Linked DNA regions of Homo sapiens: regions 1 and 3 are each linked to region 2. The links come from fine-mapping of genetic effects on gene expression. A gene starts in region 2. Each other region holds a variant in brackets. All regions are shown on one strand. Distances are from middle to middle.

What was found.
Region 1: its variant is fine-mapped to the expression of NFIL3 in whole blood (GTEx, PIP 0.98).
Region 3: its variant is fine-mapped to the expression of NFIL3 in fibroblasts (GTEx, PIP above 0.99).

The regions. Positions count from the first base shown.
Region 1 is chr9:91,188,088-91,196,266 of GRCh38, forward strand. It overlaps LOC124902208 (a long non-coding RNA gene), which reads left to right and starts at 4,935. Exons shown (of 2, transcript XR_007061660.1): 1 at 4,935-5,029; 2 at 5,291-8,179. RefSeq lists enhancers at 278-447, 3,744-3,913, 4,880-5,174, 5,593-5,852, 5,756-6,623 and 1 more. The variant A/G (reference allele first, on the strand shown) is at 4,443.
Region 2 is chr9:91,419,885-91,428,063 of GRCh38, forward strand. NFIL3 (nuclear factor, interleukin 3 regulated) reads right to left here and starts at 3,948. Exons shown (of 2, transcript NM_005384.3): 1 at 3,756-3,948. LOC124902209 (a long non-coding RNA gene) reads left to right here and starts at 1,738. Exons shown (of 2, transcript XR_007061661.1): 1 at 1,738-1,820; 2 at 2,135-2,175. LOC105376146 (synapsin-1) reads left to right here and starts at 4,149. Exons shown (of 2, transcript NR_188612.1): 1 at 4,149-6,512; 2 at 6,946-7,726. RefSeq lists silencers at 3,886-4,285, 6,596-6,792.
Region 3 is chr9:91,175,633-91,183,811 of GRCh38, forward strand. It overlaps LINC00484 (long intergenic non-protein coding RNA 484), which reads left to right. Exons shown (of 3, transcript NR_135306.1): 3 at 6,837-7,130. Among named protein-coding and RNA genes, the nearest start is that of LINC02937, 16 kb to the left of the region's middle. The variant A/C (reference allele first, on the strand shown) is at 4,351.

The DNA of each region.
Region 1 (8,179 bases), 230 kb before region 2:
AGCTGGGCATCCACCCAGGGCTGGGCAGGTCTGGGGCAGAGGCCTGCATCTCACGCTGAGACAGCATGACTGGACAACCTCAACCCAGTCTGGAATATGGTTGGGCTTAAGGAATCCCAGAAAGGGTCCTCAGCAGCATGACCATATTAGTTTTCTACTGCAACAGTCTTAGTGGCTTCAAATGAACAATTCTTCACAGAACTGTTGTGGGGAGAGGGCTCAATTATCCCTAGACTTCTTACCAGCAATATTTAATGCCAGGAGAAAAGATCCTCAGGATCATCAGAGAGGAAAAAATCGTGCCCAAGAATCTGACACCCAGGTAAGTCATTAATTACTCTAGTCAAAGGCAATAGACACGTATTTTCAAAATTGCCAGGATTCAAGAAATACAGAACATTTTAGGAAAACAAAAGTAAAATAAAATTGCCTAATTAATCAAGAACATAGAAATGGAAAAGCTATGATATGAAGTGAATGAGATTGGATTAATGTAAATTTAGAACACTGAGAATTATGGGAATTACGGTTACAGAAATGAAGGGGAATGTTAATGCTGAAATGAAAATTGATACAAAATGACAAGAGCTTTCTGGCTTTCCTAGCTCTTCTTGTCTAATTAAAATGAATACATGTATATTGTTGTGGTAAGCAGAACACTGGCCCCCAAATATATCCATGCTTGTATTAGTCTGTTTTGCTTGCTATAAAGAAATACCTGAGGCTGGGTAATTTATAAAGAAAACAGGGTTATTTGGCTCATAGTTCTGCAGGCTGTACCGGAAGCATGGCACCAGCATCTGCTCAACTTCTGGTGAGGCCTCAGGAAGCTTACAATCATGGTGGAAGGCAAAGGGGAGGCGGGTGTGTCATATGGCAAGAGAGAGAACAAGAGAGAGAGCAGGGATGTCCCAGACTCTTTCAAACAACTCCATCTCACCTGAACTAACAGAGCGAGAACTCACTTCTTACTGTGGGGAGGGCACCAAGTCCCTTGAGAGGAGTCTGCCCCCATGACCCAAACACCTCCCACGAGGCCCTACCTCCAACCTTGGGAATCACATTTCAACATGGATGTGGAGGGGACACACATCAGCACCATAGCAATGCCCTAATCCCTGGACCCTGTGAATGTTAGGTTGCGTGGCACGGGGGAGTCAAGGTGGCCGATGGAATTCTGGTTGCTAATCAGCTGACCCTGAAGTGGGGAGAGAATCCTGGATCACCCAGGTGTGTTCAGTGTAACCACAGGGTCCTCAGCTGTGGATGAGGAGGCAGGGGTGTCTGGTGTGGTGTGGGAAGAACTCGACCTCCTGCTGCTACTTTGAGCTGGAGGTGAGGACCACGAGACAGGGTGGCCGAAGGCAGCCAGAGAGATGAGGGGAGAATTCTCCTACAGCCTCTGCAAGGAACACAGCCCTGCCAACACCGTCACATTCATCAGTGAGAACCACTTACTTCTAAACTACAGAACTCTCAATGATACATGCATCTGTGTTGTTTGAAATCACTAAGTTTGTAGTAATTTGTTACAGCAGCAATAGAAAATGAATACAATTGTAGAAAAATTAGAATAGGTGCATGTACTATATTTATTACATGAAAATATGATTATATTGTGCTTACTGAACTGTAACCTGCTTTTTCAATATAACAGCACATAGTAAACTTTTTCCTATGATAATTATATGGACACCCCTACAACATGATTCTCAATTGCTGCATAGAGTGCATGAACTTTAATGCATTTATCCCATCTTTCCCATTGACGAAGGCTTCCCCTAACTCCAAGATTAACATTCTCTGTGTACATACTGGGTTATGGCAAATTCCTAGAATTTAAATTGTTTTGTCAAAACCTAGATACTTTCTTGTAATGTATGGCGCTTGACATATAGCAGAATTGACACATAACCCTTCCTGCATAGGACCAGGGGCTGCAGCCTGGGATCCTCCCTGACGCACCATCATTATCATCCCCATTCATTTCTTTGTACGGATCTCAGCATGATTGTATCTTCTGAGGCAGGTTCTTTTCCCACGCCTCTCTCCATTGCCAGGCACTTTCTCTCCAGAACCACATCACTGAGGCAGGTAGCAGTCCCCAGTCCCAGCACAGGTGGTAAGCTCTCTGGACCACAGCAAGCAGCCCAAGGATCAGCCTGCCCCGTCCATGCCAAGACAGTCATTATTTTAAGAGTTCAAAGACCATCAAAGCTTCATTGGCCTGTTCCATTTAATTTGTGAAGCATTATGTCCCTTTTTCCCCCTTTTTTCTTTTTTGAGACAAGGTCTCGCTGTGTCACCCAGACTGGAAGGCAATGGTGCCATCATATCTCACTGAAGTCTCAACCTCCTGGGTTCAAATGATCCTCCCGCCTCAACCTCCCAAGTAGCTAGGACTGCAGGCATGAGCCACCATGCCCAGTCACTGTGTATGTGCTTTTTATTCCTTTTAAAAATTTCATTTTCTCTAAAGATGATGCATTTAGGAACTGGACTTATTGATGGCATCTTTTAAAATTATTTTGAAATATTCAAAAATCTTTGATTCACTGATGTGCTTTTGGTCTGAAGAAGGGGCTGTGAGATTCATCCTGCTAGGTCAGAAAGACACATGGCATTTCCCCACTGTCTTCCTCAGTGTCACCCGCTGGAAGCAAGGGTGTCCAGACCACACTGCAGCTTCCTCGGGAACCTGGGGCTTTTCTTGGCAATATCTAGTGATGTCTGCCTTTAAAAAGAATATGCATGGGCATAGGTTGCGGGGCAGGGGTGGGGGCTTCAGTCCCAACTCAGCCCTTGAGAAACGTAATGAACATAATTCCCCCCACCCCCCAGCCCCTTTTACAAACAGGTCACATTAAGTTAATTTACCAGCTAACACAAGACCATTTGATGGCCGGGCAGTTTCCCATGGGACTGAAAAGGCAGGAGCTGCCAACACTTTCTCTAGGCCCCTCAGTGCCCCAGTGACATCTGCCCAGACCTCGCAGGCACCTCGGCCTTGTCCTTTTTGATGACTGCAGAGAGTTGGTGGTTCCTAGAGCCCAAGGTGGAGGTAACCCTCTGAGACACTGCCTGGCTCTGGAGCCCCTCCCAGCCCCTGGGCAGCTCTCTTCCTCCTTTCTGTCCTCAGATATGTCACCATCCCCAACCCAGGAGAAATCACTCTTCTCCACATTGTGTGTGTGTGTGTGTGTGTGTGTGTGTGTGTGTGTGTGTGTACGCGCGCATGCGTGCACATCTGTGCTTCCTGGGAGCATAGGAAGTAGGAACCAGGATTTGTTTCCATTCTTTTGAGACAGCATTCCCATGGAGGTTAAAATACAGTAAATGCTGAATGGAGAAAGTTTCTAATCCCCAGAATCGCAAATCCTATTGGTGGGCAAATTGTTTTAAAAGAGCTGTTTGGAGTTGAGGCGCACCTGCAAAATTAAACACACCAGGGTGAGAAAGGCTTTCTGGGGGCGGATCTGCAGGACTTGATTTTGCTGAGTTTAATGCCACTCATTTCACTTTCTGTTGGCCAGAGCCCGTTTCCCCTGCTTGAAGGCACAGAACCTTGCTGGGAGCCAGGCAAGCTCTCTGGACGGGATGGGCAGCCCCAGGGCCAGCCATCCCAAGTCTAGGGCTTGCTGGGGCCTAGACTTTTGACCTCCAAAGGGTACGGAGTCTGGGGACCACTCTGCACACCATCCTCCATCCAGAGAGAGGGGCCATTTCCATCCTCATTCGGTTTCCCATATTCAGGGGAACTCCTCTCCAAGAAGAAACAAGGGCTCAGTTCCATTTCTGACTTCTCTCTAGGTCAGCACGTGCGGTCACTTCACAGAAAAATGGTGTGGATGTGCCAGACTGGGGACAAAGGCCCTCTGTTGTCCCCATTACCTGTGGTTTCCTGCCACAAAGGCTACACCAAGTACCTTATAAAGAAGGGCTGAGCGCTTCATGGATTTACTCAAAACCCAGCGCTCTGGGCTACTATGACCCCAGCCACCAACAGGTGTTGAGACTCCCCTGAGGCCCCGCCAAAACTGGCTGGGGTTTCCTCTCCACCTCAGTGCCACCCCTGTCTCCAAGCCCATACTCCCAGGCATCTCTCAATCACTACCTCTACAAGACCCCAGGGTCTGGGTAATGGGGGCTGGCAGAGCCTGGACTCATTCCTGCAATGACGTCGGATACCAGCGGCACCCATTCCCTCTCCAAAGCTCATGTCCACAAGGGCAAACGATAGCATCCCCCTCCACCCCGGCAGTAAGCAGCAGCGAGTCTCACCAATTTGAGAGTCTCTAGAACAACAGATGGTAATTTGTTGACACAAAGATTTAAGGGGACTCAATTACAGTCCCACTGAAAAAGCTCTCTCTAAAATAAGAAAGTATACAGATTCCTCAGCTCGCAGAAATTGCTGACAGCTTTGTTTTCAACCCTCCAGG[A/G]GTAAAAAGAAGCTGACAACTTATTTTTGCAGGTTATGCTCATTCAAGTCTATTTTTAGATCTTGTTCCTAAATAAGTACACCAGAATAGCATTCAGTTTGAAAATCACCATCTGTTCAGAGCAATGAGCTTGGCCTCGCTGGGCTGGGTATACCTGGCCCATGGCAAGGTGGCAGTCCCCTTGTGGACTGAACCGAGGGGGCAGTTTCAGGTCTCCAAGTGGTGTTTGAAGAATGCACTAAAAACAGTCACAGGCAGTTGGCATTTTAAATGCCCATTAAACAACTATTAATATATTTTATTTATAAGCTGAGAACCACACAAAAAATGCCCTTGGCTTTTTAAAAAGAAGTTCAAATAATCCCTTGTATTTAAATAGATTTCTTATAAAAAGGCGATCCAGCCTAAGTTTGGTAGTTAAGATAAAAATTAACCTATGGAAAAGAAAGCCAGCTCAGAACGCTATAAAAAGGCCCCTTCCCCCCCCCCCTTTCTTCCGGTGTATGGTGGCCCTCCCCTCCCTCTGCAGCCACTTGGTAGTGACTCACGCTTTTCTTTGGAAATGCAGTTGCTGCGTGAAACACAACGTGAGAATGGGAATCTGACATATGAGTAACCCGGCCGAGAGGCACCTCTTGGAAATGACACTGGGCCTTGGCTAGAATTACGCACAGGCCCTGGGAGGGCTGCGGCTCGTAGGCCCGTAGGGGGCAGGGTGAGGGCGGAGGTCCTGGCGCCCCCAGGCCTGACCCGCCCGCACCGCTGGGCTATTTTTAGCGTCCACTAAACTTAGCCGACTCCACCCTCTTGAATAACCCACATCTTAAAATGCTATTTTTCTCCAACAGGTCAAAAGAATTCTGCGAGTTAGAGCGCAGATTAAGTTGCTAGCGACGGGCATTGAAGGTTTTAGAACCGAGAAAATGAGCCGGTGGCGGGGAGCGCGTCCTCAGCGGCCAGGCCCGGCACGGGGCTCGGGCACTCGGGGACACACGGTGGTCGTCGCTGTGTCTCAGCAGGACCCTGTGCGCTGGAGAGCTTGGGGCCGCGAGTCGCGCAGCAAGGAGGCTTCTGGCTTCTCTATTTTTAGCCTCTGAACGTTTTCCAAAATAATTACCAAAAGGAAATACACACGCACACATGGACCTAACACACAAAACGTCCTTCTGCGGGAAGCCAGCACTAGGAAAGAAAAAAAAAAAAATCCGAAGTGAAATTATGACACAGGGTTTTGTAACCCGCGGTGGCGCGCTTCTGAAACCCGAGCCCGGCAGCGGCTTCTTATCTGCACCGCGTTCCAGGAAGCAGCCGGCGTTTCGGCCGCGCAAGGGCAGCCGCCGCACGTAGGCAGCGTCCCCCAGCCCGGGACCCGCAGGAATGCGAGGGGCAAGACAGATCGCCGGAGGAGCAGGGGTCAGAAGTCAGTGTTTAACCACTCACTGGCTTTCGGTGAAGCCAGAATGTTAGCAGCGAGTCGCGGTCGGGGGCCTTGGGGTTGCACACGCTTGCTCCAAGCACCGAGGCTCAGCTGAGCACATGCACAACCCTCTCGATGCAGCGGAAAGTCGTGTGGCTTAGGGCCGCACCCCGAATTTCGCCGCACCCGCCGCTGTGCCATTTACAACCCCCCACCCCGCCACTGCTGTCACGTAGCAATCAAGAGTAAAGGTTATCACAAAGTCTGTTCTTCGAAGGAAAGAGTTGGAATCAAGGACTTCGGACGGGAGGAAGTTGGTAAGTTACCGCTTCCTCCCTCCTGTTTTCCTCTCCTTGTTTAACTTCTCACAAGAACATGTGGCAGCGCTGCAGGTTAACTCATCTTACATAACTTCGGGGCCGTGTCAACTGTTCAGAAGAAAGAAAAACAAGTATTCTCTTCTGTAGAAGTTGTATTTAGAAACAGGCTCTGTTGTTTAGGACAAGTTCACTTGTGTTGCCTGATCACTTGCAGCAGAAAATCTTAGAACTGCTCCTCAAGCAACAAAAAGTAGGGGCTCCCATTTCCATCTTTCTTTCTTTTCTTTTTCTTTCTCTCTCTCTCCTTCCCTCCCTCCCTCCTTCCTCTCTCTCTCTTTCTTTCTTTCTGATGGAGGCTTGCTCTGTCGCCCAGCTGCAGTGCAGTAGCACGATCTCAGCTCACTGCAACCTCCGCCTCCCGGGTTCAAGCGATTCCCCTGCCTTAGCCTCCCGAGTAGCTGGGACTACAGGTGCGCACCACCACGCCCAGCTAATTTTTTGTATGTTAGTAGAGATGGGGTTTCACTATGTTGGCCAGGATGGTCTCGATCTCCTAACTGCGTGATCCGCCTGCCTCGGCCTCCCAAAGTGCTGGGATTACAGGTGTGAGCCACTGTGCCCAGCCGGGCTCCCATTTTTCTGAATATGAACTTCAAAATAGTTTGAGGAGCCCAACATGAGAGTAACTGGACAATTGTCTTCCTCTGAGAAAACAAAATGACAAACAACCAACATGAATCAAATGATGACTTGGTATTTCATTAAACACAACTCTTACAGCACCAGGAAGACAGTAGCCCATTTTGTGCCAAGCGTATTTACTCAGTTGGTGGCAATAGGGGTTTGGAGAATCTTGCATTGTGGTTTGCTGGGGTCCACAAGCCACACATCGGGTGTCTGGCCATCCTGCATGTCCAAAGGTGAACAAAGAAATGCACTAATAACCTAGAGACACAGGGACAAGAACAAGCCCAGTAATACCCATGTAGCCGTCTGCTAGAATTGAAAGCCAGGTATGGTGGGCTTCTACCCCACCCCAATCACGACGTCCTAATGAGGGCTACCAACTACCAATTACCACACCTCCCCCCTGGCCTAGGGCCCTCATCCTCCCCAAACATCTCTGAGCAGAGTGGCAATTAAGAGCACCCTGCTCTGTGGCTGGGAGCCTGGGAGCTGCCAGGGGCCATATCCTCCTACCACAGGGGAAGCTGGATAGCAGAGGAGATGGGGAGATGGGAGAAGAAAGACTGAGTTCCCAGAGTCCTGAGACAGCAGTCCAGTGGCTCCCTGGCTGGGCACAGGGAGTCCCTTTTCCTGACTCGTTCAGTTCAAGCTGGGTCTGTTACTTGCCTCCAGAAGAGTTTTGATACAGGTGTTGGCACCTTCTCAATGCCCTGTCTCCATGGTTGACCCACTTCCCTGACAGTGCCTTGAGCTCCTCCCCTGATCTGGGCTGGTCCAGGCCCTTGCTGGGGGACGCCACGTGCTAGGGTAGACCAGAAGTCCCTTCTTGGAAGCCCTACTTCCTGTGGTTCTTAGATGCCATGTGGCTGACATCTGGAGAGAGGGTGGACTATGGACTCCCTCCCCACATGAAATCTATGAAAGGCCAAATAAGGTTTAAGAGGTCTGTTCTCAGCCCCTGACAACCTCCAGGACTCTCTAAGACTGCACGAACAAAAATGAAGTAGTGCATGGACCAATGAGGTGATAAGACCCCAGCGGAAAAATTTTCTCCAATATTCCTCTAGGAAAGAGTCCTAGCAGCAAGAACATTGGTCACGAGATTGGCCAAGGGATCAATCAACTCTCTAGTCCCTTCCCGTGATGTGAAATGCGGTGTGGGCTGGAGCCCTTGTATGCTTTGCCCCCAGTAGGCGGTTGCCTCCCTCACTGGGCACTGAGGCCATAGGCCGCTTTGTTCTGCAGAGCCACGCCTGGCCTCTAGAGGAATGGATGTGACCTAGAGATCTGGACTCAGAGCTGGGCAGAACCCT
Region 2 (8,179 bases):
AGTTTCACAGGACTGGCCTTAGTTTTCAGGCTACATATACCCCCTACAAGAGAGCTTATCTGTGGGGTCTCACCATCCACTGCTGATCTCAGACCACAAAGTTTTAGATAGAGAAATCATCCAAGCTACAGAAAATGAGTCACAGAATGTGTAAGGGAATTGGAAAAAGCTGAGCTATTAATATGGCAATTGTCACGTCATTCCTGCTACTATAATCGACTCATCTCTCTATTCCTTCAAGCAGCTCCCCAAAACATTAACCCAATGACTTGGGAAGTTTGAGGTTCTGCAATCCTGTCAGGAATTCCCCTCAAACTGAAATTAACATTGAACACGATGGCAAATTAAAAAATATATATATTATTAGAACAAAAAAAGTATCTCAAGAAAGATCTTACAGACTTAATTCCAACACGAATCCTTACTGTTACTGCGAAGAGATTTACAAAGAGAAAAATGAAGGTAAATACACACACACACACACACACACACACACACACACACACAGATTCTGGTTCCTGATCAATAACACAGGAAACATTTATTGAACTCCTCACAACCAACTAAGTCAACAGGTTTTATTCCCTCAGTTTACCCTGGAGAGTGATGGAAATCAGGACAGTGTTGGAAGATAACAAGCTGGGGCCTGGGACCCAGGGTTCTTGTGAGCCCAGGGCCTGCGCTCTTAGGATCTGTACCTCACCGAAACCTGTTCTCTAACTACTGCCTGTAACAGGAGGGAAACTGATTAGGGATAGCGGTGTAGGGTATGATGCCAAAGAAAGCAAGTTTTCGGTCAGTTTTCAACAAAGAGCAGATTGCGTTGATATGCTTCAGGAGAACATCTGTGATGTCTCCATGAATTACTGCATGGGTACAATCTTGGAAGTCTTTATGCGAGGATGAAAGTACTGTAGTTTTACAGTAGGACAGCAGCGTCTATGTGGGCGTTTAGATTTTATTTTGAACTCTGGAGATCAGTGTTCTCTCTCCTCTAGCCTTTGACCACATAAATTAAAGGTTAAAAAAAATCGGCTCAACTCAACTGGCCAAAGTCAAGCTGAGGCCTTCCTTTTAATCACTATCAATACTGGAGCGCCTCCACCCCCAATTTCTGTGGCCGGTGGACGTTTGGAGGTTTTTCTTAAGGTCTTTTTCACTTCAAGAATGGAGACGCGCTTGGTTCCGAAATACAATGAAGACTCTTGGAACAAAGGTGTCTGCAGGTTTCTGAACCTCACCGCAGAACAGGCGCGGAGTCAGGCCCCTGGATTTGCCCTGTTGGAAGGAGGGCCGCGGAGACGCAGGCGCTCCGGGTCGCCCGCGCTGCCCCTGTCTGCCCCGTGCGGGAGCCGGGGTCCCTGGCTCCCTGGCTCCCTGGCTCCCGCGGCCCGGGCGAACCCAGAGCGCACCCGTACGCCGGCCCCGGCCGGTCCCTAGCGCCCGGGCTCCACGGGCCGCGCCCCCACGCGGCGCCTCCCAGAGACCCTCCTCCCTCCGGGTGGGCGGCGCAGCGGGGCCTCGGCGCCGCGAGGACCCCCCGCGCCAGAACAAAGGAATGTGGGGAGGGGGCAGGGAGGAGCTCAGGCCACTGAGCAGCCCCAGTATAACTGCCGTTCGGAGGCGCTTCTCGGTCCCGACCCGAGGTCCCCGCCCGCCACTACCAGACCCGCCCCCAGCCCCGGATTCTCGCAGACCCCACCGGCCCGCAGGAGGGAGCGGCGCACTGGGGGCCGCACGGACTCGCCATTGGAGATCGCGATCGGAAGGTGGCGCCACGCGGCCCCTACAGGCCTGGGACTCCCACCCGAGCTCGCAAAGTAGGTCGGGGTCTGAAGCTGGGGGCCTAGAGCAACTAGCTTCTTGGAAAGCGACTGCAATTATTTGGGGTAATATACTCTGTTCCAGAGACGTCCACCCCCCACCTCCCACAAAAAAAAACCCTGCACTTAATTTAAATGTTACGTTATATATACATCCCATCATATACATATATTCACACATAATCACTATGTAACAGTCCAGGAAGAAATTTAATATTTGGGTAAATTACATATTCACACATCTTCACATAAGTAAAACCAGGGTATCCAGACAAAAAAACAATCTACTAACCTATATCTGTTTCCCATAGGTCATATCTGGTCTGGGGGTAAATAAATACTTCTGACCTCACTTACTGTTGTTATTTACAAAAGCCAAGAACAGAAGATGACACTTGGCCATTCCCTGCTGTTCTCAGAGAACAGCAGTTTCCTAAAGTGTCCTTTAAAAACATAAATGGGAGCCAGCATCCAGCAAATCACCGGGCGCTGCGAAATGCCTTCCTAAAAATACAATCTTATCAAAGGTCTCCGAAGGCGTGGAGTTAAAACTACAGCAAATGGCCTTGAACTTGTATTTGCACACAGCCCTGGAGAAAACACCAGAAATAGCACTGCGAGGCCACAATTGTTAAAATGTGATAGGGCTAAATTTAGAAGAACGTGCGTTTCATTTAGGGCAAAAGACACACATTCGGCAGCATGAGCAAACTCCATGCTTACCCGGTTGTCTACTTTCCTGTTTAAAATATCCTTAAGGAAAAAAAAAAAACTGTTATAGTGACATTCTTAAAGGCTGAGACTGTCCTACTTTCTTTGTAGCAAGATTATAAAATCACGTAATTAGCTCCCTCTCTCTATGCTCACTGCCAGCAAATTCGGCAGTTACATAATGCAACATTTCCAGGAAACTATTATGTGATTTGTCTTGTCGTGTCTGAAAAAGCAATGACAATAAGGTGAGAAAAAGGGCTGATCGAATGGAATGCATTAAAATTAGGAAGGTGGGGAGGTAAACGTCACAATGGTTCGTCCCAGATTTAAAAATAACAGCTGAGAACATTGAAAGGGCGAACCCCAGTAGTACCCAAGATCAGAATTCAATGCGAGCAATTCTTGCTTTTAGGTTTTGTAGTATCGTTTTAAAACCTGTTTATTTGGGACGTAATATAGACGTAAATAACGATCTAATATCCAACGCTGCGCCTCAATTACCAAATCATTGCACACATACGCGCATATTCCCACATCAGCCCGCAATTCTTGCCAACATTTCACCGTGGGCAGATTATGCAATGTATGAAAGGACAAATCCCACAACCTTCCCGAGGGCTTGTAAAACACGCTGACGACAAACAGGGTGGAAAACGTCTGTGCAGACACAGCCCCTGACACAAACAAACGCCGCGCAGGCATTCTCCGAATGCCGTCACCGTTCACGCTACCAACCCTTTTTCTCACCAAGCAAATTAAGACTATTCCCCATTCCTCAACCCCCCATTCCTCTCCCCCCTACGCCGCCAGCCCCAGAGAAGGAACGAGAAAGAAAGACACTAGAGAGGAAAGAGCATCTTCCCGCTCGGAGAGGGCTCAGCCTGCCTGGCGCTCTTCTTTACCAAAACATCAATTTTCCTGAAATCAGGAGACATTATGCAACAGCAGCGGGGGGAGAGCGCAAACCAGCCAGGACTACGTGCCGGCGCGAAGGCGCTGCAATCAAAGCAGCCACCTTAAGGTGGCGAGTCCCATCCTGACAAGGCAGCAAAAGTTTATGTAATGAATGCCCCGCGCGCACTCGCCGCCGCTGGCGAGCCCAGCTTACAGCCCGACCCCGCACACAGCGCGGCCCGCACCCCGCGCCCGCCCGCCCGCCCGCAGCGCGCCCTGGGAGCGGTCGCCGGGCCCCCGGCCGGCGGTGGGCGGAGCGCTTACCGTGTTCCTGCTCTCGGGCCGGCGAGGAGAAAGAAAGGGGCGGCCGGGAGTCGGGCCGCCGGCGCTCGGGGCTCGGGCCGGGCCGGGCCTCCGGGGCCGCGGCGGGAGGCGGGCGGCGGCGAGGGCGCGGCGCGGGAGGCGGGCGGGCGCGCCGGGTCCGCGGGCGCCGTGGCCGCGCGGAGAGATGTGTGTTAGTAGGTCAGTTCCGAGCGCCGCGCTACGTCGCCGCCCGCCAGCCCCGCGTGACTGGCGGCCGCGGCCCCAATCGCCGCGCCCGCACCCGCCCCCGGCCCGCCGCCAATGGCCGCGGCCGGCAGGGGCGGGCCGGGGCGGGCACTCCGCGGCCCCGCCCCGCCTCCCCGCCCTCAGCTCCCCCTCCGCGGCGGCGCCACTACCAGCTCGCGTCCCTCCCCGGCCAGGGCCACCGCCGTCCGAGCGCCCGCGAGGGCTGGCGCCCCATTCCCGGCGCAACGAGTGTTGCGCAACGGCCCACGCGGCCGACACGACCGGAGCGAGCCTGCGGAGGAGCCCGGGAGCCCCCCGTCCCACCGCCCCGTCCGCTCTTGGCTCCCTTCACCCTCCCGGTCGCCGCGGTGGCTCTGCGCTCCCCGCGACCCTCACTTGCTCGCAGAGGCGCTTTTTGTCTTCCTGAGAGCCGCAGCCTGCTGGGCTACCTGTTGCCGACTGAGCACTGCGGGTTGCGGCTACCCGGGCGTGGCCCGGACCTCGGCCTCCCCTTCCCCGCACACTCCCGAGAGGAGCCCTCTACCTTGGGGTGGGCAGGAGGGAAGGCGGGGGGTGGCGGCTGGCAAGCTGCCAACACTCGGGGCGCGCTGCGGCGGGGAAGGGGTTGGCGCGGCCGGGCAGCTGCGCAGGGCTGCGCGGCGGAGGCAGCGATTAAAATGTCCCGGCGCCTCTCCCGAGAGCCGCGACGGCCCGGAGCCGGGAGGGAAAGCTCCACGCACAAACACCGCCCCCTGCACAATTAGGGCGAAGATGACGGCTGCAAAGTTGTTGCGTAACACGACTGGGAAACGAGGCTCGCTGAGGTCCATCTACCCACCCCCGCCACGCGGGTGCGGCGTTCCTCGGAGGATGTGAAGGTCCGCGCTCGGGTGCCCCCGCTGGGACGCCCACTGTCGTTTGGTGCTGGGGCTTGAGACGACCGCGCGGGATCTCTTCCTGTGATTTTGAGCTGATAGCTGCTTAGTGTTATTTCTGCGTCTAACTGGATACGGTAGTCTTCTCTCCCAAATTCCCGGGCTACGGAAGAGACGTAAAAAAATGGAAAAAAGAGCACCTAGCCGCGACTTCTTAAGTCGTCGCGCTAGACTGTCAAGGCACGTGGCACACTCCCTGCGTTTACCGATACACGGATAGTGGTCAGTGCTGGCCTTGGCGAAGGGAGCCATGTTCCCGACAGTGACTCACAGGCTTGCCCAAATACGGAGTGTGGCAGGTGGGCAGGACCTCCACCAGCCAGCTCCCTCCTGGTCTCCTTGAACTACGTGGGGGCTGGGCCGAGTGCCTCCACGACTTTCCACTTCTTTTTGCTCCTTTCGTTTTTAAAAAGCAAAAACCAAAGTAAAGAGAAGAGCAGAGTGAACACCCAGGTACCATCCCTAGTGTCTGCCATGAGCAGCAGATCTATCTACTCGCCAAGATTGTCTTTTCTACCTTTCCCCTTCTTGCACAGTTAATATCATAATAACGCAAGTCATATTTAAAAAATTTTTATCACCTATCAGTTGAGTTTTTGGAAAGCCTTCCAGGGCAGCGTTGTGGTTTTGAACGCACTCTTGTTCGTGATTTATCTGGTAGTACAGCTCTGCTGACAAGGCTCTGAAAACTCAGACGTACAATATGGGCTTAGCGTGTTCCCCGACACCATCTTCCCGGTGCTGACTAATGCAAGAACCACATCCCCTCCACTACACATTTTCCAAACTTGACTACCTTCATGAGAACAAATCCTGATTTTAGTTTATAATTTCCACTTTTCTCATACATATATAATAATTCAAGATGTGGTCTTACTATGTTGTCCAGGTTGGCCTGGAACTCCTGGGCTCAAAGGATCCTCCGGCCACAGCCTCCCTGGTAGTGGAATTACAGGCGCATGCCACTGTGCCTGGCCACTTTTCTCAAATTTACTGATAGTTTCCTTTTTGCCCAAACCTTACAATGCTTATTTGTAGCTTTGAGAACCTCTCTTAGATGAAATCAAAATCATATCCATATTAGTTGCCTTTTTGGGGTCAGAAATGCAGCTATTGTCTAGAAATCCAGGGCTGTCCTGCATAATCTACCCTCCCCTTCACGTGTTCTGACCTTGTTCTGCATTTTGAATAATTTCATGGAATTTCAAAGCCGTTGTAGTAAATGTCTTTCTTTAAAGACAACTCGACCTTCAAGACAGGTAAAGAACGTGCCTGGAGCCACCCCAGGCAGTGATGCTGGAGGAGTTCTCTCAACCTGGAAACTTATTCTTTATGCTGAATTTTGAAATCGAATGCTCCTATATTTACTTGGAGTATTTTAGATTGTGTATGTATTATATCTGTGCATCATTCATTGTTACCATCTAACTTGGAAATCAGAGGAAGTGTGAAAGGTATCTGAGATACCAGCTTAGAAAACAACTCTTTAGCTCCTCCTGGTGATTAGGACACCACTAAACAACAGGATGAAGGATCTGTCCCCAGGGCCGAAGTGATGATGTATCTAATATTATATCCTAGAACATTCACAGAGTAGGTAAGTATTTGCAGATTAACTCGAGTAAATGGAGCATAAAAACCTAAGATATTTGAAACAAATTAACCAGGGTGGGGAGGCTTCTAGGAAGACATCAGCATGTGCCTGATGGTGGAGCTGGGCTGTAAGGTTCTCAGGAGGAGGAGGAAGGGGTTCTTGCTCTCAGCAACCTCTCAGTGCTAGGGGTGGATTGAGGGCAGGGGCAAGGGAGGAGGTGCCTGGACAGGGATGAGAACTACCAGCAGAAGACAATCAACCACATTCTAATTCATTTTATTATACTGCCAACATGGTTTCTGACTAAGCAAATATAAGAGCTATAGCTTGAGAACAGAATGACTAAAACAGTGACTTCTCCTTACTAAAATGGGAATTAATAGGAATTTGTAATTTAGTAACAACTTAATTTAATATAGTAATAATTTTTCTACAGCTGCAGAATGTCTTGAGCTGGAACATCCCCAAGAGGCCATATATATATCCCAGGGATTTTACAGTGGACCTCACTAGGCCGGAGTAACTGTAAAGTCAGATGGATAATGAGAATTCAGGACGTTAGCCACACGTGGACTGTGGCAAAAAGAAAGTGACCCACTGAAGAAGACTGTTTTTCAGCTCTCTCATCAATTGCTGTTTCCAGGAGCCCACAGCTCCAATTACTCAAAAGAACGTTGACTTTTTTTTTTTTGGTAAAATATCCTGATTTTCAGGTTAGGCAAGCAATTCATTAAAAAATAAAAGACTGCACAGCCCACAGCTCCAATTATTCAAAAGAAAGTTGACTTTCTTTTTTTTGGTAAAATATCCTGATTTTCAGTTTAGGCAAGCAATTCATTAAAAAATAAAAGACTGCAGGACTTACCTACCCAGAGGCTGGACAGTCTGAGTCCTCTGAGTTCTACAGAGATGTCCTGGGAACAGGGGGTGGAGACGGGGGACTCAGTGGCTAAAAAGCAGGCTGCCTACCTGGCAACCAAATTGGGCAGCTCTACCCTATCTGTTTTGTGCATTGGACTTATGGATTTCTTTGTAGAAAAAACTTCGATAACTAAAAGCCCTTTGGTGACCTCCTGTCTGGTCTGGTGGCCGGCAGCCTGCATCAGGGCTCCTGTGTGCCAGGACCATTTTCTTTCCACTGTAGTATGTTTATGGACCACCTTGTGTCTTTTTATTAAACTCCAGGAACAGAAGTTCAGTTTCTGGGAATCCATAGCATACCGTTTTTGTTGTTGTTGTTGTTGTTGTTGTTGTTTTTGTTTTTGAGACAGGGTCTTGCTCTCTTGCCCACACTGGAGGGCAGTGGAGTGATCACGGCTCACTGCAGCCTTGACCCCCCCAGGCTCAAGCAAACCTCCAACCTCAGCCTTCCAAGTAGCTGGGATTACAGGTGCACACTACCATGCCTGGCTAATTTTTTAATTTTTTTTTTGTTAGAGTCAGTGTCTCTCTATGTTGCCCAGGCTGGTCTCAAACTCCTGGGCTCAAGCAATCCTCCCACCTTGGCCTCCCAAAGTGCTGGAATTACAGGTGTGAGTCACAGCACCAGACCTGTTTTGTTTTCAAGTGGAGGCTTTAAGATGTGAGCTAGCATGGTAGCCTTAGTGAGGTTCTCCTCCCCACGCCCATCAGTGTGTGCTTTTTGCTGGGATTTTGGCTTTGATGCAATG
Region 3 (8,179 bases), 240 kb before region 2:
CACTAAAAAGAACTTTTTTACAACACTAAAGTTAACAAATTAATACTTTTATGAGAGTTGCAAAGTGTATGCAGGCTCCATTGTGGAAGAAATGGCTCATTTAAGCCAATGAGAACCAAAATCAGCTCCCAACTTAATAATGTTAAACTCCATTCCACGATGTATTTTTAAGAGCTTGCCAAATTTGGTAATAAATTAATTTTTAAAAGGAAAGAAAAGCTAAATCTAGACAAAGAAACACAGAAAACCAAATTATCGGTTTGGAAGATATTCAAATATATTAACTAGGACCCTGGGAAAACCATGTATGTTGGGAAGGGATTTGTAGGTGAAGAAGGATGTAGAAAAATTCAAGAAGAGCCTGGTGATGTGGCTCACACCTGCAATTCCAGCACTTTGGGAGGCTAAAGCGGGAGGATCACTTGAGGTTGGGAGTTTGAGACCAGCCTGGCCAACATGGTGAAACTCTTGTCTCTACTAAAAATACAAAAATTAGCCAGGTGTGGTGACTCATGCCTGTAATCCCAGCTACTCGGGAGGCTGAGGCATAAGAATCGCTTGAATTCGGGAGGTGGAGGTTGCAGTGAGCCAGGAGGCAGAGGCTGCAGTGAGGCAAGATCGCACCACTGCACTCCAGCATGGGCAACAGACTGAGGCTTTGTCTCAAAAAAAGAAAAGAAAAATACAAGAAGGAAAATGGGCTTCTGCCATTTTCGGTGGCATGTTGTACAGAATTTGACAAGCATGTCCAGGTGAAATCTTTGAAGAAGGCACTGCAGTTTCTGTGTTGGCGGACGTCCTCATTTTTGTTTCCACCCTGTAGCTAAGTGGCCATCCTGCTCAGAATATCTGTGACAGTTGGATTAGGACATATTTAGTGATTAGGAATCAGCATGTTACATGGTGTATAAAAGTCAGGCCCAAGAAAGACTCTGACCACCTGAACATCGGCAAGCTCACGTGACGCCCAAGAGTCAAGACTGCGGAGCGGTGGACAGAAGAACTGCATCAGGAGCCCCTAAAAGGCTGGCTCACAGGGGCTGTAGAAGAGCCACCATGACAGTGTTCTGGCTGAAGATCAGGCTGCATGGTCTGACAAAGGACTTTCTGGCTGGCAGTTTGACAGCACCTGTGGTTTATTTAAAAAAATAATAATAATAACAGCCGGGTGTGGTGCCTCACACCTGTAATCCCAGCACTTTGGGAGGCCGAGGCAGATGGATCACCTGAGGTCAGGAGTTCGAGACCAGCCTGGCCAACATAGTGAAACCCCGTCTCTACAAAAATACAAAAATCAGCCAGGCGTGGTGGCGCACACCTGTAATCCCAGGTACTTGGGAGGCTGAGGCAGGAGAATTGCTTGAACCTGGGAGGTGGAGGTTGCAGTGAGCCAAGATTCCATCACTGCACTCCAGCCTGGGCGACAGAGGGGAGACTCTGTCTGTCAAACAAAAAGAACAATAAGAAGGTTGTTTATGGCTGAAATAGGAACACACAGAGAATCTAGGGTATGGGGCTGCCAGCTCTCTCCCAGTAGAGTCCGTGGACCAGGTCACTTGTGAGCTGCTGGTTTCTGCCCCATGATGAGATAACAGAGTGCAAGGAAGTGTACGTGTTCAGAACTCTCACGGCAATTTGACAGGACTGTGGCATCAAAGTGTGTGCCTGTGTTTCAGTAATCCATGTCCTCTGTGTTTTACAAAAGCACTGGCCCAAGACAGATTGGGGAAAAACTACAAAAAATTGCTCCTTCCCTACAGGCTGTTCCAGGACAGCAGCTCTGGAGTGTGGCTTGGCGGTCATTTCTGGGGGAAGCTGCAGACAATTAGCCACAGATGATACTTAGGGTCTCAGACCCCACAGTTGATGCTTAAAATAGATGTTAATGACTTCAGAGATGTCCCTAAGCTTATCTGATTCATACCCTCTCATTTCCAATGTGTTTTCTGAGGGAAAAAGAAGGGTTTTCGGTCAGTGTGCCAGGAGATCCAAAATCCAGGGCATCCCTGGGTAGCCTGACCTGCTGGGACAATGAAAAGGTGGAGAGAGGACTCCCAGGGACGGCAATGAGGAAACAGGGCTGCCACGGCCCACAGGCCTGGGTGTGATCTTGCTGCAGAGCCAGGAAGCTCCTTGCAGCGGTGAATGTGGTGGCGGTGCTGGCCGGGCACCGTGGCTGTGCCTGGCAGGCCTGCTGAGGGCACAGGGATTCATCGCGCTTGGCTCAGAAGCTTCGTTTTTCTGAGACAGCTCCCAGCTTCACTCAAACGTGGTTACCTACAGATGCAAACTGGAAACGATGCACTGTTTGTTCCCTTGCAATCTCTACGGTGAGCAGGCAGGAGCCCCAGCCAGAGTCCTGTGGTCACACACCCACTGGTGGTCAGGTAAATTTTCTGTTTCCCAGAAGGTTTTATTTTACAGAGTTAACAGACTGTGGCCTGCTTCCATTGCTCTGAAACACGCCAACTCCAGTTTCCCCACCTTTGTGAGGACGATCAAAAACCCAGAGAACGGCAGTGTTAAGATTTGATTTCATGATAAGCCCATCTTGTGGCAAGTTGAGTCTGGCTCTGGAAGGTGTGTTTGCCAGGAAACAAGCTGTGTATTATTTCTGTGGTTTGGCAAGGGAAACTCTGAGCTGGATGGATTTGGGAACCAGGGGAAACATAGCTCAGGCCATGAGAAGTCTGGATGAACAGGAAAACAGAGGAGGGGTCCCAGGTATTGCACAGCTCAGAGAGACAACGCCCCAGCGCCAGAACTCAGCAGCCAGCAGGGGTGTGGGCAGCACTGGGGTGTGGCTGGAAACTTCGGACACCACCCACACGGCCCACAGTGCCAAGCCCTGCTGCCTGGCCCTGCCCACAGAACCCCCCCATCCTTCTCAGCTGTGGGCTAAACACCCCCAGGATGGAAATGGCTGGGCTGTCCAGGGTGTGGAGTGAGCAGAGGCGCACAGGCAGCCTGCCTATGTGGGCCTGTGTTGGTGGGGCCCCACGTGTGGACATGCCCCGCCTGACACCAGGACTTGCCCGTGAGCCTCCCTCATCCCCAGCAGGCCTTGCTGGGACTCCTGTCTGGGGCTCAGTCCCGCTCTGGGGACATTTTAGGAGAGGCAGGTGAGTTCCTGCTGCTCCCAGGGGCCAGTCCCAGGGGACCTCATCTGTGACAGAGGATACCTCATTTATGACAGAAGACGAATTGTTGGGCACAGCCCAAGGCCTACGGAGAGCAAGGTAGGGTTGTGTCAGAGTTGCCCTGAAACCAACATCTTGTAGGTAAAGTTACTGAGGTTTGTCAAGTTGCACAGCATGGAGTAAGCCGCAGAGTGGAGGACAGGAGGTCACTCTGTGGTTCCCGGGCATCTCATACCACCTGGTGCCATCTGGAAACAAGTGTATTCACCTGCAGTGGGGAGACCCCGCCTCCCCTGCCTCAGAGCAGCCAGCCCCTTTGTCTGCCACCTGGAGGTGTCACAGGCCTTCAGAGGAGAGGGCTGTGGGGCTGCAGGGAGTCATCAGGGTGGACAAAGAGGTGCACTTGTGCAGATGTGGGCCTCATGGAGCCGAGAAGGGAAAGACTTCCCTGCAGATGACCATACAATGAGCAGGCAAGAAAGAGGACCGGAAGGCGTGAGCTGAACCCGCAGCTGGCTGAGGAGCCAACACACACGTTTCCGAGGGATCCAGGCTTAGGCTGGTGGCTCTTACGATCCCAACATCGGCTCCATTCGCCCCGGTCTGTTCATTCTACTTCCACCGAGATCATGTGCATCCCATCAGGGCATCCTCCCTTACCTTCTATGCCGCCAGTGCCCCACAGCACCCCCATGCTGTGTGCCCAAGCTCTGCACGGTTAGGTGGGGACACCCTTGCAACGCACAAGGTCGGCCTTCCCATCCCACCATTGCTGCCTGCCCTGTGTCCCTGGCTCCTGCCAACCTGGTGGGTTTGCAATTCCCCACAGGGACCCACACTTCCTGGAGAGAGTAGCCACACTCGGACCTGCCCAGTGCAGAGCCGGGCCAGGCTGGAAACAGGTCGGGGCTGACTCACTGGCCCAGAGTGGGCCACAGGTGCTGGGCACTGCTCTCTCTGCCTGCAAATCCTATCTTTTACACCCCTGCCCAGAGAAACATTCTGTGTCTCTCCACGTACCAGGATGACAGCGGCCCCCAAATATGTTCATATCCTAATCCCCAGAACCCGTGGGTGTGACCTTACATGGCAAACAGGACTCTGCAGATGTGATGAAGACCAGAATTATTTGGGGGAGGAGGGCAATGTAGTCACAAGGGTCCTCCTGAGACAGTCCGAGCAGAAGAGAGCAGGAGGTGACTCACTGATG[A/C]ACACAGACTGCAGCGATGCGCTTTGAAGACAGAGGAAGGAGACAAGAGCCAAGGAATGCAGGTGGCCCCCAGAAGCAGAAAGACAGCAAAGAAATGGATTCTCCCCTAGAGCCTCCAGAAAGAACCAGCCCTGCCCACCTTTGACTTTAACCCAGTCAGATTGGTTTTAGACTTCTAGCATCCAGAACAGTAAGAGAACAAAGCTGTGCTGTTCTAAGCCACCGAGTCAGTGGTCACTTGTTACTCAAACATCACCCATCAGCACCCTGGGGAAGTGCGCCTGGCTGTCCGAATGAGCAGCCCTCTCTCCAGGACAGCCCTGCACCCGTGTTGGGCCTGTGTCTGAAACTCCCTAGCTGCACAGGCCTGGTGCCAGCTCCATGAGGCTGGGGTGCCACTGTGAGTGGCTCCATCACTCAGTCAGCCCTCGCCACAGGCCTGCAAATGGCCACTGCATGCTGGTGCTGTGGACATCCATGGCTTGGTTCCATTTCAGGGAAAAGCCCCTGAGGACTTGGGGAATGCTTTCCTCCCTCAGCCACGCTATTCAGCGACCCCACTGGTGACCTGTCCAGGCTGAGCCCCCCCAAACACGCTGGCCCAGTGACTGCTGCCACCCCCCTTGGCCGGCTGCTTGGTCCAGAGGCAAGAGTCTCGGCCAAGGACAAGGCATCACAGTCCTTTCCTGGTATATTTCAAATAGGAACTGGGAACCAAGGGCCAGTCCCATTAACTTGAGTAAGAGGCAGACACCAGCCGGCACAGAGTGGGTCCCACTGCCTGGGCCCTTCCTGCACCTCTGCTCGCTGCTCTGCCCCAGCCCGGGCTCAGCAGGGACCGGCCTGGAGACCAGCCCCAGAGCGGGACCTCAGTGCATGGGTGCCGGGGAACAGTGGGGGCCTGACAGGGCTCCTCAGACCTTCCCGTGGAGGAAGGCAGGAAGGTGGGCTTCCCAGGAGCCGTGGGCAGGCAGGCACCCTTGGGCTTCCTTTTTCCCATCTGTGTAAGGAACTGCTCTAGGGCCATGAGACACTCTCTGCTGATCCTGTCCCATGGTCCTAGGGGCACTGTCTGCCCACCCACCCTGAGTGGCCTTGGTCACAGCTGCAGTGGGACACCAAGTGGGTCCATAGCCATTATGGACTCCCACACGCAGCGGCCACCATATGCTGTGGGGTCCTCATCTCAGGTGCCCACATTCAGATAAGATTTGGGATAGACCATAAATTCCACAAGGACAGGGATTTTTAAAAATTTGTGTTTACTGATGCCACTCAAAAGCCTATAATCAGTATAAGCCTGACACAGACAGGTGCTCAGGAAACAATTTTTGAATGAATGACTAGATGCTGAATTATTTGCTTGGTAGGATGAGGATGGGCATTTCCAACATATTGCAACTGGAAACAGTGTTCCACGTTTAGAACTCCTCTTCGCCTCATGAGCTAATTTGGCACATTACTGGTCTGAGTGAGCTGTGGGTTGTCTGTACAGTTTTTGTTTGTAGCAAAGCTATAAAACAAACTGTGCAGGCCAAGAATAGATTGACATTGTTCACGATGGTGCTTACAGGCTGCGCAAGATGTATTAGAAGTCTTTGCATAAATAATAATTACAGAAATCCAAATTAATGAGAGAGCATTTCTCAATGATCCGATTGGTAGAGTCCAGCATCCACGTGCACTCCTGACCAGGACGTAGAGAGAGGCCCTCCAGGAGGTGTGCAAAGTGGCGTGGATTTGGGACAGCGATTTGACAGTATCTGAGAAAGTTAAAACTCTGCATCCCCAACACACAGCAAGCCCTGCAGCGGTAAGTCTGGGTCACAGTGAAGGCTCAGGACAACCCCAACCATCCAGGGAGGAACAGCTAATAAGAATGGCACCCTTGCTGGAAAGTGTATGGTTGCTGACTGGAAGAAATATCCATGACATGTTGTGATGTGTGTGCAGCTGCAGACCTCTACGTAGAGTAAGTACGTTATTGTTTGTGGAAAAAAGTATGTGTGTGTTCACAGGTATGTACATGTTTGTGTGTGTGTGCAAATGAGCACAAGCATTGACTTGTTGGAATGTGGGTGCATGGTGCGTGTGTTCCTGTTTGTGTCTATGCATGTGTGTGTGTGCATGTGTCTTTTGTAAGTACAGGAAGAAGTCAGGAGTCGTCATGGTAGTGAGGATAGCAGTACTGTGTCCTATCAGGGCCAGACACGGCACCTTTCAGATACTGTAGTCATGCACTTAATCCTCAACTGGGTTACCACTGTTATCTCCAATTCACAGATCAGGAAACTGAGGCAAGCGACCAACCTAAGTTGAATTCTGAAGTCAGGCAACTTGTGTCCAAAGTCCATGACCAGAATCTTTCTGTTTTGCCGCCATGCTCAAAATAGGAAAGGCAAGGTGAAGCGTGCTGTTAAACATTGTTAACTGGTGGGCACTATGGGTGTTTTTTACTTTTTTCTTTTTGTATTTTTATCTTTCAGGCGATTACTTTAAAACATGAAAGAAATTGCACCTTTTCCTTAAGGGCAAGATGGTGCTGTGGGCTTTCCTCTCTCCTGATGAGATGATGCAAATGGACTCCATAGAGAAACGCTGCCCGTGTAACAATGCAGTTACGCAACCCGGTGCATGACACATGAATTGCAGCGCACCTGAGATCCTGATGAAATCCTGGGAGCCTGGAGCTGTCAAACATGGTTTTAAAAAATAAAGGGAATACACCCAGCCCACACCCTGACTTTACAACCTTTAATTAATTAGAGGAAAGAAAGAGAGATTTGTCTGGTTTCATGACTTCAACTTTCCACCTGGAATATGAAGCTCCTGCTCTTCCCACCTCCTTTTCTTCTCTCTCTCTCTCTCAGGTTTTTAAATTTCTATTTCCAGTTCTGCCACCAAAAATAGATTGCAAATATATTCTGCATAATTCCGAGGCTACACTATAAATGTTGGAGTGCTACTACTTGTATAATAGTCACAAATGAACGCACGAGTGGGCACAGACCGCCACTCTGCCTCCCTCCTGCTCCTGCACCAGCCAATAGTGTCTGAAGTCAGACCCATCCCATCTTCCTGTCCAGCTGTTTAGTCTCAAATTGTACATTTATTTCATTAATAGATCAGTCTAAGATGTTCATCTCATGTAACAAAGGGGCATCTTTTTTTCTTGGGAGCCTGGCTGGTTTGTTGGTGGAAAGGCAGGGCTCAGGGGCCGTCGATGTTTAACTTAAGCCTCCTGTACTTTCACATTCTGGGACCCAGCACCTTCTTGTCTATAGTTAGCTTTTTGAAAAGTGCTATTTGATTACAATTTAAGGCTGGGCGCCGTGGCTCACGCCTGTAATCCCAGCACTTTGGGAGGCCAAGGCAGGCGGATCACCTGAGGTAGGGAATTCGAGACCAACCTGACCAATATGGAGAAACCCCCATCTCTACTAAAAGTACAAAATTAACCGGGCATAGTGGTGCATGCCTGTGATTCCAGCTACTTGGGAGGCTGAGGCACAAGAATCGCTTGAACTCGGGAGGCGGAGATTGCGGTGAGCCGAGATCACACCATTGCACTCCAGCCTGGGCAACAAGAGCAAAACTCCGTCTCAGAAAAAAAAAAAAATTAAACACACTTTCATTCACTGAATCAACAACTCTTACCAGTCATGGTCAATAGCTGTATCATGACAATAACTTAACTTGGGGAGTTTAAAAAATACCCACACCTGGATCCTACCCCAGGACTGGTTGAAGTCACCTGGGTGGGGCTCTGGCCGGGCGATTTTCAGGTGATTGTAATATGCAATCAGGGTTGAGTCCTTCTGCACATGGA